Linked DNA regions of Homo sapiens: region 1 is linked to region 2. The links come from fine-mapping of genetic effects on gene expression. A gene starts in region 2. The other region holds a variant in brackets. All regions are shown on one strand. Distances are from middle to middle. Region 1 overlaps COL5A1 (collagen type V alpha 1 chain). Region 2 holds the start of MRPS2 (mitochondrial ribosomal protein S2).

Evidence for each region. PIP is the estimated chance that this variant, and not a neighbour inherited with it, causes the effect.
Region 1: its variant is the best candidate, but not a certain one, in a credible set for the expression of MRPS2 in whole blood (TwinsUK, PIP 0.76).

What each region holds. Positions count from the first base shown.
Region 1 is chr9:134,757,948-134,760,842 of GRCh38, forward strand. COL5A1 (collagen type V alpha 1 chain) reads left to right here. Exons shown (of 66, transcript NM_000093.5): 18 at 296-349. Among named protein-coding and RNA genes, the nearest start is that of MIR3689C, 90 kb to the right of the region's middle. The variant TACAC/T (reference allele first, on the strand shown) is at 1,569.
Region 2 is chr9:135,499,407-135,502,301 of GRCh38, forward strand. It overlaps MRPS2 (mitochondrial ribosomal protein S2), which reads left to right and starts at 1,276. Exons shown (of 4, transcript NM_016034.5): 1 at 1,276-1,347; 2 at 1,592-1,717; 3 at 2,438-2,567. The coding sequence starts at 1,305. PIERCE1 (piercer of microtubule wall 1) reads right to left here and starts at 463. Exons shown (of 3, transcript NM_001048265.2): 1 at 303-463. The coding sequence starts at 445. RefSeq lists silencers at 566-735, 1,006-1,175, 1,386-1,545 and an enhancer at 1,501-2,125.

The DNA of each region.
Region 1 (2,895 bases), 740 kb before region 2:
AACTGCAGCGGTCGCTGAAATACCGCATGACTAAGGACCCGTCGGGGCCTGGGACTTGGGGATGAAAGTCATCTCCCCCTTTGCAGCCCATGTTCATGTTTGCAGGGGAAGAGGCTGAGATTGTAGATGCAAAGTGGGGGCCTATGGGGAGAGGGCTGGCCGATGGGGTTCAGGGTGCATAGATGCTGTGTGAAACGTGGTCCAAGGCGGGGCGGCCATCACTTGGTGGACACCAAGGCGGGGTGTCCACGTGTGCAGGGTGGCGTCTGAGGCAGCCTTTCTGTCCTTTTTGCAGGGTGACCGGGGTTTCGACGGCCTGGCTGGGTTGCCAGGCGAGAAGGGCCACAGGGTGAGTATTTCCTCTGTGAGACACAGGCATGACGATGGGCAGCAGAGGTGTCTCTCGGGAGGCCCTTCTCCTTCCAGGCAGCCTCAGATTTCCTGTGGGGTCAGGTCTCCGCCATTCCAACAGTCAGTATACAAACCTCACGGGAGTCAGCAATGGCAGTGAGCCCCAAGATGATGTCTTTGTTGATGGGTGGCCAGCCCAAAGGAATTGGAGCTCTTATCTACAGTTTGTGACAAGTGAGCCAGATGGGCCTACCCACCTGAGGCGCGTGAAGGGGGCAGGGAAGGAGCCCTTCCTTTTAGAGATCTGTTTAATGGAGTCCTTTAACATTTCAGGAAATCCAAGCAGCTGCCATTTCAGGGGCGGCCAAGGACACTTTGCAATATTAAAGTGGTGGTCCCAAGGGGGTGGGGACAATCTCAAGTGGCCATGTGGAGACCAGGTCACGAAAACATGCCAGGTGTCCCCCTGTTCCCTGTTAATGGGCGTGGATGAATTTGAAAGTGTGTCCCGTGAGTCCCGAGCTAGTGCGGTGACCTGGGGGTCTTCCTGGCTGCGCCGTTTCTATGTGGTTGTTGGAGAACACAGATGCGGCAGCTTTGGATAAACGGCAACAGCCAAGCCCCTCGAATCTTGAATCTGTCTCAATAGACTGTGGTCTTCTTTCAATAACAACGTGATAGAAAGCCTACAATCTCCTGCCCTGTTGAGGAGGTGTGGTGGGGAAGGCTCGTCCTGGCCGCCTGCCCTGCTTTCTCAGCCCATTTGGGGGCCTGACATGAGGGCTCTTCACAGCTTGTGGGGTGTTCCTTCTCTGACCTGCTTTCTGTGAAGCAGATTTCTCTGATGGCTCCTTTATATTTTAGCACACTGAGGACATACAGGCACATGAGTATGTGAGTGCACACCCCCCATGCACACACACACCCACACATACACCACATACACCACACATGTGTGCGCGCACACACTCATACACACATGCACACACACGCATACACACCCACACACCCCCACACTCATACACACATGCACACAAGCACACACACACACCCACATTCATACACAGATGCACACACACCACACATGCACACATACGCATACACACCCACACACACCCACACTCATACACACATGCACACACCCACACCCACACACTCATACATGCACGCACACACACCCACACACACCCACACTCATACACACATGCACACACACA[TACAC/T]ACACCACATACACCACACATGCGCACACACACTCATACACACATGCACACACCACACACCCCCACACATGCATACACCCCCACACCCCCACACACATATGCACACATACACCCATATTCATACACACATGCACACATACGCATGCACACCCCCACACCCCCACACTCATACACATATGCACACATGCACACACCCCCCCACCCCCACACTCATACACACACACCACACATGCACACACACCCACGCACCCCCACACTCATACACACATGCACACACACCACACATGCACACACGCATACACACCCACACCCCCCCACTCACGCACACCCCCACACCCCCACACTCACACATGCACACACACCACACAGGCACACACACACCCATGCACCCCCACACTCATACATGCACACACACGCATACATACCCCCACACCCCCACACTCATGCACACATGCACACACATGCACACCCACACACCCCACACTCATACACACATGCACACACACCCACGCACACACGCACATACACACCCACACACCCCCACACTCATACATGCACACACGCATACACGCCCACACACCCCCACACTCATACACGCCCACACACCCCCACACTCACATGTGCAGACACCACACATGCACACACATACATGCACACACACATACACCCCCACACCCCCACACTCATACACACATGCACACACCACATGCACACACACGCATACACACCCACACACCCCACACTGATACACACATGCACACACGCACACACCCCCACACCCCCCACACATACACACATGCACACACCACACATGCACACACACCCCCACACACCCCCACACATACACACACACCACACATGCATACACACCCCCACACCCCCACACTCATACACACATGCACACACACCACACATGCACACACATGCATACACACCCACACACCCCCACATTCATACACACATGCACACACACCACACATGCACACACGCATACACACCCACACACCCCCACACTCATACACCCACACACACACGCACATACACACCCACACACCCCCACACTCAGACACATGCACACACACCACACATGCACACACACACACCCACACACCCCCACACTCATACACTCATGCACACACACACACCACACATGCACACCCCCCACACTCATACATGCACACACACACCCACACACCCATACACACATGCACACACACCACACATGCACACACACCCCACACATACACGAACACCACCTACACATGCACACACACGCATACACCCTGACACACCCCCACATGCATACACACATGCACACATGCA
Region 2 (2,895 bases):
AGCGGAGTTTCAGGGTAGAGAGGAGAGGAGACTCACCCGACACAAATCAGTGGAGCTGAGACCACAACTGGGCTTTCTCCCCCCACGGCCCTGCCCCCCACTGCCCTTATCCCCACTTCCTTGTATGAGGCTCTAGGGAGCACGGTCGCCGCTCACTGGCGGGCGATGACAGCGCGGGCCCCGGATGACCACTCGATCTTCTTGATTTCTGTAGCTAGGACCTTGGGGGTCTTGCGGGGTCTCTCACACACGGGGCTATCGAGCAGTGGACGCCAGGACCAGGCGGGCCCCAGCTTCCTCACCTGTAGCCCCGGAACCACCCCGGGTTGTTGAACCTGCCCGGCAGGTCCGCGCTCACGCGGTAGTAGTCGCTGGTCCTCTCCGGCGGGGCCGTGGCCTTGGGCGCCACAGGCTCCGCGCACGCTCTGGGGCATTCCTCAGCCATTGTGCCTGGAGGAGAAGCGGGACTCGGCGGCGTCCTGTTGCCAAGCGACGGCCAGGTCACGTGACTGGGGAGCGAGCGGAGGGGCCTTAAAGGCGCCGCGCGTGGGCCGGGTTCCTCTGCGGGTGGGTCCGGAACCTGCCGGGCGACTCCCCAAGGGCCGGGAAGGTCGGGACGGCGAGAGATTCCCTGCTGGGACCGTCGTGTGAGGCAGCCCCAGGCCCCCAGCCACCCGCGGGGGGACCGGGCCACCCCAGCATCAGGGCGTGGACTCCCGGGCGAAAGAAACCCCAGGGCCTGGGACCCCGCCAGCCGGGTGACGGGGTTTAAGCACTGCAGGTCCACTCGGCAGGCAACGATTGGACTTTTGCTGTCCAATGTACTCCAGGGATGCTATGCCCCCCAGCACCCCGAGTCTAAATTGAGACCCGAGATCTGGCTAACTTTATGAAATTCTCCTAAGCCAAATATCGTTTAAATATTACAAACAGTTTTGGAGAGCGAGAGGTTGCGCAGGACGTGGTTCACAGCTCACTTGGCGGGAGGCGAGGGTCCCCATCGCCCAGCGGGCTTCCCCAAGGGTCAGGGGCCTCCCGGGCTGGCCGGTCCCATTAGCAGGGCGGGGCGAGCTGCAGGGCGAGGACCGTGGCTCCACTCCCCGCCCGAGACTCTCAAGCCCAGGACCCCGGGCCCTGACCCCTCGCGTGCCCCGCCCCCGCAGGGAGGTCCCAGCCGCCTGGGGACAGCGCTGTGGCTCCTCCGGGCCTGTAGGCGGCACTGCGGCCCCGCGCGGATGGCGACGGAAGGGGAGGCCGCTCGGCCTGGCCTGGAGGGAGACCTCGCTCTGCCCCGCGTCCCAGCCATGGCGACATCCTCGGCCGCGCTGCCCCGAATACTCGGCGCGGGTGAGCGCGCGCTTGCGGGACCCTGGGGAGGAGCATGCGAGGAGGATGCGGAGGGGCGCGGGGACCCGATGGAGCGGCGGGGACGTGGAGGGGACCCGGGGCGAGCGCGGAGGGGACTCGGGGAGGGCGCGGGGACGCGGAGGGGACCCGTTAGGGACGCGGAGGGGCCCGTTGGGGATGCGGTGGGGAGCGGGCGTGGTGCATTCGGGACTCGGCGCCAGGACCTCTATCTACTTCCCCCCAGGTGCCCGGGCCCCGTCGCGCTGGTTGGGCTTTCTCGGGAAGGCGACCCCCCGGCCTGCTCGGCCGAGCCGCAGGACGCTTGGAAGCGCGACGGCCCTTATGATCCGCGAGTCGGAGGACAGCACCGGTAACACTGGGCGCCCAGCCGAGTTGGGTGGGAACGAGGAGAGGCCGGCAGCCGCGGGGGATGCGAACCCTAGAGGGGCCTGGGCGCTGCACGCGGTCGAAACTGCGCGCTCCGCTGGGCTCCTCCCACTCCCGTGCTCGCCGCCGCTCGGTCCTGCCTGACGTAGCACAGCGGGCTGAGGCCACCGCCTCACCATGGATAGGGTGAGAGGGAGCGGGCGGGCCAGTGGTTAGCACAGGCTTCGCTCCCTAGGGGGGTGTCACTGGACCACCGAGGCCCGGAGCCCCGAGCTCGCCCAGGCGGGCCCAAGTGACCTGGGGGCACTGGGCTTGGAGTCTGCCCACCTTGCTGGACTCCTGATGGGGACTTTCTGGCTGGCCACCTGAGACCACAAGGCGGGGAGGTGCCAGAAAGACCTGAGCAACCCGCTGGGCCCCTCTCTTTTTCTCCTCTGTCTTCCAAGTAAGACCAAGGGACGGGGTTGACCAGGTTCGACCAGGCTTACCCAGGAGCAAGGTCGGGATCAGAACCTGGCTCCAGCCCTCTGTTTCCTGAAAAGGTCCCTGTGCTTCCAGGTCTTTCCTGGGGCTGCTGGGCTCCCGGCTCCCCACCTCGGTGTCACAGAAGGCACTTGGGAGCAGGGGTGGGCGGGAACTGCGCTCTGCCTGTCTCTGCTGCCACCGGTGGGAGACGCAGCGTCGCTCCTCCTCCCTGCCGTAGATTTCAACGACAAGATTTTGAATGAGCCCCTCAAGCACTCTGACTTCTTCAATGTCAAGGAACTGTTTTCCGTGAGAAGCCTCTTCGATGCCCGAGTCCATCTGGGACACAAAGCTGGCTGTCGGCACAGGTAGGTGACACCCCCATCTGAGCCCGGGGCGGTTCCCAGGAGGAACCTGGGACCTGCTCTGGTTCTAGGGCCACTTTTGAACTGGCCTATGTCAGTTTTAGGTGATTACAGCCCCATCCTCCTCCACATGGGAATACAGAGCCCCACAGAGAAGCAGGAGTTTATTCCTCAGCTTGGCGGACGCTCTTGTGTGCCTTGGTGTGGCGCTCACAGCCCTTGATAGGGCAGGCCTGCTGGGGGTTGCAGGACTCCACGGGTTCAGAAATGGAAAGGCTGAGGGCAGAACCTGTAAGGTTGGTCCCCCCGGATCGGGCTGGGCCTTCTGGGC